Regions from separate parts of the Homo sapiens genome. Here region 1 is linked to region 2. Evidence: fine-mapped expression QTL. A gene starts in region 2. The other region holds a variant in brackets. All regions are shown on one strand. Distances are from middle to middle.

Region 1 (5,376 bases), 51 kb after region 2:
CCAGGCCCCATTTTGTGATTTAATTCTCATTGTAGACTGACATTTTCTATAGCAGAATTTTTCAACAGTAGTACTGTAGTTGAGGGGCCACATTTGGGGCTGGAGATGGGTAACTCTTTACTATGGGAGCTCTCCTATTTATTGCAGGGTGCTTAGCAGCACCCTGGGCCTCTACCCACTAAATGCCAGTAGCAACCCCCATCCCCGCAAATTGTGTAAACCAAAAATATATACACACATTGCCAAATGTCCCATAGGACACAAAATCATATACCCATACGCTAACACACCCATACACTAACACCACACGCATACACACACACACACACACACACACACACACACACACTTTAAGACTCGCTGCTCTGGCCAGGCGTGGTGGCTCACACCTGTAATCACAGCACTTTGGGGAGCTGGGGCAGGCAGATTACTTGAGTTCAGGAGTTTAAGACCAGTCTGGCCAACATGGTGGAACCCCCTCTCTACTAAAAATGCAAAAATTAGCTGGGCATGGTGGTGCATACCTGTAGTCCCAGCTACTCTGGAGGCTGAGGCAAGAGAATCGCTTGAATCTCGTAGGCAGAGTTGCAGTGAGCCAAGATCATGCTACTGCACTCCAGCCTGGGCAACAGAGTGAGACTCCATCTCAAAAAAAAAAGAATCACTCCTCCATAGGAGAGAGGCAGTGTATAAAATAATCTTTTTTCTAAATTGGTTGTGCATTTTAAATAGATTCCTGGCTGGAAACAATGGCTTACGTCCATAATCCCAGCACTTTGGGAGGCCAAGGCAGGGGGATTGCTTGAGCTCAGGAGTTTGAAACCAGCCTGGGCCACATGGCAAAACCCCGTCTCTACTACAAATATGAAAATTAGCCAGGCATGATGGCACACGCCTGTAATCCTAGCTACTTGAGAAGCTAAGGTGGGAGGATGACTTGAGCCCAGGAAGCAGAGGTTGCAGTGAGCTGAGATTGGTTCACTGCACTCCTGCCTGGGGAACAGAGCCAGACTCTATCTCAGAAAAACAAAAACTAAATAACTAAATAAATAAGTAGATTCTAAGATTTTACACACATTGAATCCCGTGTGTTACTGGTTTGTTCCCTACATGGAGTAGACAGGTTTTCTCTTTGGCCTTCACGGAAGCTCAGACTGTTACTCATTCTACTTTCTTGTACTCATGCATTGCTAATAGTTTTCATCTGGTTATTAATTCAGTAGCAGGCCGTTAAGCATGTTCACTCGTGCTGAGATATTTCTTAGTGAGCTCTCACCACATGCCCTGATGGTGAGCAGCCTCACCTCTTAAACAGGATTCCTGCATGGTTGAGAACCCGTCCACCTTTCTCGGCTTGTTATGATCAGAGCTTACACTTTTGGGAGGTAGAACTGCATCTGACATGGAGGAACATGGTCCTTAGAGTCAGACAGACCTGGATTCAAATCCCACTTCTGCTTACAAGCCAGATAGCCTTGGACTGATGATTGAACCTGCATGCCTCCGTTTCCCCTTATGAACATGGGGATGATTTTGTCTACCTGGCAGGGTTCTGCATGGCCTTAGCGAGATCACGTATGTCAGACATCAGTAAATGGTAACTTGTTATCTGTCAGTTGATAGCTGTAAGGTATGAATTACCATCTTTGTAGGTCAAAAACCATCAAATATTGGCAACTTCGTACAATTGGGCCTAATATGTAAACCCCAGGTCACCATCACGCTGTCCTCTTTGCTCTATGGATATCCAGCAGATGAAAGGGATGGTTCTGCTTTGTTATTTTCTTGTTTTCCTGCTTCTTCTGAGGGGGCTTCCCGCTGGCACAATCTAACAAACTTCAGAGAGGACGAAGTCAGTCTCTGCTGTCATCAGTGTTCACAGACAGTAGTTTCAAAGTGTGTACCACATGAAGTTGCAGTCTTCCAACCTTCCAGCCAGTGTGTATGGAAATAACCTGAATTGTATTAATAGCAGTTCTTCAATGTGGGCCTGCTGGGGGATGCTTGGTTGTTTTCCGTTGTTTGTTCCCTGGGTGCCCGTCTTGGGCAAGCATTTCTCTGATGTCTCTATTTATGTGGCAGGTCACCCTGCTGATTGCCTTCATCTGTGTGCGGAGCTCCCTGTGGACCAACTACAGCGCCTACAGCTACTTTGAAGTGGTCACCATTTGCGACTTGATAATGATCCTCGCCTTTTACCTGGTCCACCTCTTCCGCTTCTACCGCGTGCTCACCTGTATCAGCTGGCCCCTGTCGGTAAGAGAGTGGTCTGGCCCTGTCCTCCGCATGCACAAGTCAGGATGTTAGCTAGAGTACTGAGACCTGACAGAGTTTTTCCCGTCTGCCCATCTCACCTCTTTAACCATTCTTTGCTGCCTCTGCCCTGAATTTCCTATTGTTTGGTGGACATCTCTGCTTGATGTCCTGCTGGTTTTTAAAACTCACTTTCCAGCTACAAGAAGGCTGTGGCTGGCCGGGCGCGGTGGCTCACGCTGGTAATCCCAGCACTTTGGGAGGCTGAGGCGGGCGGATCACGAGGTCAGGAGTTCGAGACCACGGTGAAACCCCGTCTCTACTAAAAAATACAAAAAATCAGCCGGGCGTGGTGGCGGGTGCCTGTAGTCCCAGCTACTCAGAGAGGCTGAGGCAGGAGAATGGCGTGAACCCGGGAGGCGGAGCTTGCAGTGAGCCGAGATCGAGCCACTGCACTCCAGCCTGGGTGACAGAGCGAGACTCCTCT[CAAAAAAAA/C]AAAAAAAAAAAAAAAAAAAAAGAAGAAGGCTGTGGCTATTGCCCCATGCTTACTTTCTCAAGCAACAGAGAATGGCTGTGTGTGTATGAGTTGGGAAAAGGAACACGGAAGGAAATTGTAGGTGAAGATGATGGGTATTGATGCTGTTGTGAGGATTGAATGATAGGATTTTCTGGCTAAAAGAGACTAGTGGGGGCTGAGGAGACAGTCAGAAGTTGCCAGACTTTTTCTTCCCACTGTATTATTTTTTAAAGCTTCATTGAGATGCAGTTCATATGCCGTATTGTTCACCCATTTCAAGGGTACAATTCAATGGAGTTTAGTATATTTCCAGAGTTGTCCAACCATTACTACAGTCAACTTGAGAACATTTTCATCATTTCAGAAAGAAATTCCATACCTTTTAGCTGTCACCTCCCTACCACTCATCCCTCCAGTCCTAAGCAATCACTAATCTTCTGTCTCTAAAATTTTTCTACTCTGAACGTCTCATGTAAATGGAATTGTATATGTGGTCTTTTGTAACTGGCATCTTTCACTTAGCTGAATGTTTTCATGGTTCATCCATGTTGTAGCAGGTATCAGTATTTCATTCCTTTTTTTCTTTTTAGAGACAGGGTCTCACTCTGTCACCCAGGCTAGAGTGCAGTGACGTGATCGCGACTCACTGCAGCCTCAACCTCCCAGGCTCAGGTGATCTTCCCACCTCAGCCTCCCGAGTAGCTGAGACTACAGGTGCATGCCACCACACCTGGATAATTTTTGTGTTTTTTTTTTTACAGAGATGAGGTTTCATTGTGTTGCCCAGGCTGGTTTCAAACTCCTGGCCTTAAGCAATCCTCCCACTTTGGCCTCCCAAAGTGCTGGGATTACAGACATGAGCCACCATGCCAGCCTTTTTATAACCAAATTTTATTCCATTGTGTGGATAGACCAGACTGCATTTTGTTTTTCATTCATCTTCAGTGGACCTTTGGGTTGTTTTTACCTTTTGGCTATTATGAATAATGCTGCTATGAGCATTCATATACAAGTTTTTTGTGTGGACATATTTTCATTTTTCTCTGGTATGTATCTAGGAGGGGAATTACTGAGTCATATGGTCACTTTGTGTTTAATTGTTTGAGGAACCGCCAGACTGTATGCCAAAGTGGCTCACTGTTTTACATTCCCACCAGGAGTGTATGAAGGTTCCAGTTTCACAACATCTTTGCCAACACTTATTATCTGACTTTCTGATTCCAGCCATTCTAGTGAGTGTAAAGTGTTATTTCCTGTGGTTTTGATTTTCATTTCTCCAGTGACTAATGATGTTAATCATCTTTTCATGTGCTTTTGGCCATTTGTATATTTTCTTTGAAGAAATGTCTATTCGAGTCCTTTGCCTATTTTTTAATTAGGTTATTTGTCTTTTCATTATTGAGTTGTGAGAATTCCTTCTATAGTCTGGATAAAAGTCCCTTATCAGCTATATGACTTGAAAATATTTTCTCCCATTCTGATGTTTTTCACTTTTTTGATGGTGTCCTTTAAAGCACAAGTTTTTAATTTTGATAAATTTAGTTTATTTATTTTTTTTCTTTTTTAGCTCACGCTTTTCTTACATATAAGAAGCCATTTCCAAATTCAGATTGTGAAAATTTACTTCTATGTTTTCTTCCAAGAGTTTTATAGTTTTAGTTTATACATTTAGGTATTTGATCCATTTTGAGTTAATGTTTTTTGCATAGGGTGTGAGGTAAGGGTTCAATTTCATTCTATTGCATGTAGATATCCAATTATCCCAGCATCATATGTTGAAAAGACTATTCTTTCCCCCATTGAATGGCATTGGCACCCTTGTTGAAATCAGTTGACCATTAAATACATGGATTTAGTTCTGGACTCTCAATTCTATTCCATTGATCTATGTGTCTGTCGTTATGCCATTATCACACTATTTTGATTACTGTAGCCTTGTAGTAAGTTGTAAAACTAGCAAATATGCAGCCTCCCAATTATTCTTCTTTTTTAGGATTGATTTGGATCGTTACAATTCCATGTGAATTTTAGAATCGGGTTTTCAATTTCTACAAAAATCAGCTGGGATTATAATAGGAATTATGTTGAATCCATAGATCAATTTGGAGAATATTGCTATCCTAATAATATTGTCTTATCCATGAACATGGGAAGTTTTTCCATTTTTTTAGATAATCTGTTATTTCTTTCAATGTTTTGTAGTTTTCAGAGTAAAAGTGTTTTTTGTTTGTTGCTTTGTTTGAAACAGGTTCTTGCTCTGTTACCCAGGCTGGAGTGCAGTGGCAAGATCATAGCTCCCTGCATCCTCAAACTCCTGGGCTCAAGCAATCCTCTTGCCTCAGCCTCCCAAAATGCTGGGACTACAGGCATGAGCCACTGTGCCTGGCCTGAACTTTTTAAATTAAATTTGTGTCTGAGCATTTTATTCTTTTTGATGCTATTTTAAATCAATTTTTTTCTTAATTTTATTTCCAGATTGTTCATTGCAAGTGCATAGGAATCCAATTACTTTTTGCATATTGATTTGTGTCCTCAACTGTGCTGAACTACTTAGTAGTTCTAATATATTTTTCTAATATATTTTTAGTGGATTCCATAGGATATTC
Region 2 (5,376 bases):
CTCTGAAGCCTCTTCTTGTAAGTCAGGCCAGCAATGGCCCTTGCACTGGCAAGCATCTTGCTCAAGCTCTTAAGTGATCATAATAAAGTGATTAACACAGAGTGCCCAGCACAGTGATTACTTCTGATTAGAGGTGGGTGGTGCATTAGTCAACACCAGGCAGAAAAGCCCAGCAATGTTTCTGAGCAGACTCAGGAAGAGATAGTTGTTCTCAAACTTGAGTATGCATCAGAATCACAGAATGATGGTGAAGGGGGGTGGGGAGTGAGGGTGGGGTTGGGAAGACTTGTTAAGACACACACTGCTGAGCCCTACCCCTAGAGTTTCTGATTCAGCAGGTCAGAGTGGGCCCCTAGAATCTGCATTTCTCACAAGTTCGCAGGTACTGCTGGTTGGGGGGCTATACACTGAAAATCACTGTTAGAAGACTGCTGAATTGGACAAAGGCCCCTCAAAGGAGAAATGATCCAGCACTTGGTTTTTCTGCTTCCCTGAAACCCTCATCTCAACAAAGATGCCCTGTTATCTCCACTGTGGGTCCTGAAGCCTTAGACAAGTACAGAAGTGAAATGTACATCTACATAAAAAAATGATACACAGTACTAACTTCATGCCTGTGGGTATAGAGCCAGAAATGTCACAGCACACCTGCATATCTATCACATTGTCACAGCAGCCCCTAGATGCAATTATTCCTGAATTACAGAGAAACAAATGGAGGTACCAGGCAGCTGTGACTGTTGTCTACAGAGAAGACACACGTGGAAGGCAATTTTTCTTGGTCATGAAAATTGTCAAATGTACATAAAGGTGAAATAAATAGTGTAATAAATCCCCAAATGTTTCAACTGCAGTGGACTCTGGCAATGACAGTGGTTCTCAAATTTGAGTGTGCATCAGAATCACCTAAGAGACTTGCCAAAACAGATATTGCATGGGTATCATCCACCAACAAGAATTATTAGGACTTTGCCACATCGAAAACTCTTCTGATGACAAGACAGCACTGGCAGGGAATAAACTCACAAAGATAGTTTTATGTTTCACTTTGCTTTGTTTTGTTCTTGAGGCAGGGTCTTGCTCTGTCACCCAGCCTGGAGTACAGTGTTGTAATCATGACTCACTGCAGCTTCAACCTCCCGGGCTCAAGCAATCCTCCCACCTCAGCCTCCTGAGTAGCTGGGACTACAGGCATGTGCCACCATGCCCAGTTAATTTTTGTATTTTTTTGTAGAGATGGGGTTTCTCCATGTTGCCCTTGCTGGTGTCAAACTTGGGCTTGTGAGCTTGATTTTGGGATTACAGACATGAGCCACCGTGCCCAGCCAGATTTTTTGATGTTATCTCCAAATGAATAAATGTAAGTATGGCCACAGGGACACTGCTCAAAAGGAACATGATAACATACCTCGTTTTGGTAGTCCCGTTTGGGCCTGTCTTCATTTTTATGTTTTTTTCCTTTTCTTTTTCTTTTTCTTTTTTTAAGAGACAGTGTCTCACTCTGTCACCCAGACAAGAGTGCGGTGGCAAGATCATAGCTCACTGCAATCTCGGACTCCTGGCCTCCAGGGATCTTCATGCCTTGACTTCCCAAAGTGCTGGGATTATAGGTGTGAGCCACCACGCCTGGCCTCTTCATTTTTAAAACAACCCAAAAGGGATACAGAATAGAATGTCACTTGGATAGCTGTTTGACAGCTTTTTCTTTTTCTTGTCTTTTTTTTTTTTTTTAATTGAGACAAGGTCTTGCTCTGTGGCCCAGGCTGGAGTGCAATGCCACTGTCATGGCTCACTGCAGCCTCAACCTCCTGGGCTCCAAGGCTCCTCCAGACTCAGCCTCCTGAACAGGCATGTGCCACTGCACCCAGCTAATTTATTTATTTATTTATTTTTATTTTTATTTTTATTTTGAGACAGAGTCTCGCTCTGTCGCCCAGGCTCGAATGCAGTGGCGCAAGCTCTGCTCACTGCAAGCTCCGCCTCCCGGGTTCACGCCATTCTCAGCATCCCGAGTAGCTGTGACTGCAGGCGCCCGCCACCACGCCCAGCTAATTTTTTGTATTTTTAGTAGAGACGGGGTTTCACCGTGTTAGCCAGAATGGTCTCGATCTCCTGACCTCGTGATCCGCCCGCCTCGGCCTCCCAAAGTGCTGGAATTACAGGCGTGAGCCACCGCGCCCGGCCCAGCTAATTTATTTTTATTTTTTGTTTTTTGTAGAAATGAGGTCTGGCCATGTTCCCCAGGCTGACAGCTTCTAACAGAAGCAAACATATGCTCCCCTTGTAACCAGTGCGTTCACTTGCAGATATTTGTCCCAGAGAAATGAGAGTTTGTATCCACCAAAAAAACGTGTACCATAATAGTGACTATAGCCAGAAAAGAGATGAGGGAGGGGGGAAAGGCCGGAAGGAGGGAAGGAGGCAGGCAAGCAGGTAGGAAGGAAGCAAGCTTGGTGTCCATCAACTGGGTAAACGTTTAAAAAATACGGTATCTTTGCACAGTGGAGTACTACTCAGCAATAAAAAGGAAGGAACTGATATGAACTACTTATATTCCCAACAGGATGGATCTTCTAATTTGTTATGTTGAAGGAGAATATTCTGTATTACTTCAAGTTTATGAAGTCCAAGAACAGGCAAAATGAACCTACAGTGACAGAAAGCAGAATACACTGTAGTGGTTGCCTGAGGCTGGATAAGGATGGGGCCAGGGAAGGAAGGTAGGTCAGGAAGGCCCACCACGGAACTTTCTGGGGTGATGGGCACGTTCTATTTGTTGATCTGGGCGACGGTTACACAGGTGTACACATATATAAAAATTAGTGGAGCTGAACACGTAAGGTCTGGGCATCACACTTTATGTAAGTTAAACTTCAGTAAAGTGCTCTCAGCACACATCCGCAGCCGCACCCACACAAAATCCCAGGAGGCTCAGTACCAGCTGTGGTCCGGGCCTTGCCCACCTCGGAGAGGCCACGACCCAAGGCATCCGGTTTCCTCTCGCTCCAGTCTAACTTCCGCGCATCTACGAGGGCCGGGACTGCCGCTACCTTTCTGGAAGGCGCCGGCCGGCCAGTCACCGGAGGGATCCCGCCAGAGGCGGCTCCGCGTCTCCAGCAGCGGGGCAGGGACCCGGGCGCCCCGCCCTCGCCAGCGCCCGCCCCCGCCCGCCCCCGGCCCGCCCTCTGTATCTGGCCCCTGGGCAGCTGCCCGGGGAGGCGGCCAGCGAGCTGGGGCCGCGCAATGTCGCACGGAGCCGGGCTCGTCCGCACCACGTGCAGCAGCGGCAGCGCGCTCGGACCCGGGGCCGGCGCGGCCCAGCCCAGCGCGAGCCCCTTGGAGGGGCTGCTGGACCTCAGCTACCCCCGCACCCACGCGGCCCTGCTGAAAGTGGCGCAAATGGTAAGTGAGCGCGGGGCGCGAGGCCGAGGTTCTACAGGGCGTCCCGGGAAAGCAGGGGTCCGGGAGCGGACGCGCCGGGCGTCTGGACCCGGCCGGAGCCCAGGGAGCATCGCGCAGCGGGCGGGGCACCGCGTCGCTAAAGTTCGCGGCAGGCTTCCTCCGGGAAAGTTGCTGCCGCAGCCCCCGCGCTGGAGCTCAGTCCCCAGAGCCGCCCCGGCCCTTGCTCCCGCGGACCCAGGTCGCCAGGGTCGCAAGTTTCTCCGGCCACCCCCCTGCGAAGCCTGACCCGCCTACTGACTGAAACCACGGGCAAAGTTCCTTTTCGTCTTTCTTCCTCTTCTCTGGGCCGCGCCGCTTCGAACCCGAGCCGGGGGTGGAAGAGTCGCCCAGGCGGCGGCGCTGAGGGAGCGAAACCCGACCTCTTCCCCGTCCACGGCCTCCTCTTTCCTCCGAACCCAGCGCGGCAGGGCTTCCCTGCTCTGTGTGCAGTTTCGCTCGAAGGAGGAGGTCAGAGGGTCTTGTGTTCCATAGTGGGGAAAAAGAACTGGGACCGTTGAGACGGCCGTCCTGGTCCCCTGCGCCCTCAAGTTCCGAGGGAGGGCCCGGGTCTCAGGGGGCTCTGGAGGGCAGGGGGTCAGTTGGGAAAGGCCTGTTGTCAGGGGCTGGTACTCATGTAGGGGAGCCAGACTGTTGAATGGGAGTCACCCGTGGAGCCAGGCAGGATGAGTGTCTGGGCTTGGATTGTGACCAACTCAGCACAAGGGCCTCCTACCAGGGCAGACGTTGCCTGGCCGATTCTCTTGTTCCCCACTCTTTTCTTTTCTCCCCTCCCGTTTTTTTCTTCTTTAAAAGTTTGTAATCTGAAACAACTTTTCCGTTTGTATGATGTGTTTTGAAACTGGGTTGGGCTGTTTGTGAGTCTCCACCATTGTAATGTTTGCACCAAGAACGGTGGGGAGGGGAGCGGTAAGTTTCAAAAAGAGGTGTGGGGAAAGGAGTGTGGGGCTGGACAAGGTCACACACCCAGAAGCTGGGGCCTGCTAAGGTGGCCTGGCCCCAGGGGGTTGGGCACAGGACGTCTGTGCATCTATAGCACTGCCATTCCAGACACTGAGTGTGCATGAGGTGGCCCTCATGTCTTGCTTGGGCCAGACCTAAAGAGAAGGGGCGCTGAGTTCCTGCCTCCCTAAGAACGGTGTCTAGATAGACCAAAAACTAGGAAGAGCCATTTCAGCAACGTACAAAAAAATCTGGTGCTGAGCATTGTTGGGTTTGAGCAGGGCATTTTTTGGCCCAGGCTAAGAGATTTGATCAGCCAAATAGAAGAGACCAGCCCATCTCACCATCCTTAAAAGATGGGCTGGGGTGAGACATATCCTACCTGAGCATTGGAAGGGATGAGTTTGGTAGACAGAGAATGGGATCAGAAGCCTCCATCTTGGCCCCTGAGTTTGCTGGACAAAGATATTGTGGGATGAAAAGTCTTCTTGTTGGTCTATGAGTTTGGTACACAAACATAATGGAGATGAAACCTCGGCAACATAGCGAGACCCCATCTCTACAAAAAAAATTTTAAAACCTTGTGTGGTTGGCATGGGCCTCTAGTCCCAGTTACTTGGGAGGCTGAGGTGAGAGGATTGATTGAACTGAGAAGGTCAGTGAACTGTGCCACTGCACTAGTCTGCGTGACGGAGGGAGGCCTGTCTCAAAAAAAAAAAAAAAAAAAGGTACAAAGAAAAGGTAATGGAGATGAGAAGCCTTCATGTGGTCCATGATTTTGATGAATAAAGATACTGGGAGATGAGAAATCTCCATCTCATCTTAAGCTCCTCAGCTAGCCTCTGGCCTGTGGTCCTTGGGCCAATTTGCAAGTGGCAAGAGTGGGGCCTGTTGTTCCAAAAAAGAGAACAAAGACTTGAATAATTTCTTTATCTGGTTGCTTATTCTCTATGTGCTCCTCTTAAAACCATGCTG

What was found. PIP is the estimated chance that this variant, and not a neighbour inherited with it, causes the effect.
Region 1: its variant is the best candidate, but not a certain one, in a credible set for the expression of CMTM7 in whole blood (INTERVAL, PIP 0.86).

What each region holds. Positions count from the first base shown.
Region 1 is chr3:32,439,758-32,445,133 of GRCh38, forward strand. It overlaps CMTM7 (CKLF like MARVEL transmembrane domain containing 7), which reads left to right. Exons shown (of 5, transcript NM_138410.4): 2 at 2,083-2,256. Among named protein-coding and RNA genes, the nearest start is that of CMTM7, 51 kb to the left of the region's middle. RefSeq lists a silencer at 3,800-4,094. The variant CAAAAAAAA/C (reference allele first, on the strand shown) is at 2,741.
Region 2 is chr3:32,388,664-32,394,039 of GRCh38, forward strand. It overlaps CMTM7 (CKLF like MARVEL transmembrane domain containing 7), which reads left to right and starts at 3,190. Exons shown (of 5, transcript NM_138410.4): 1 at 3,190-3,402. The coding sequence starts at 3,244.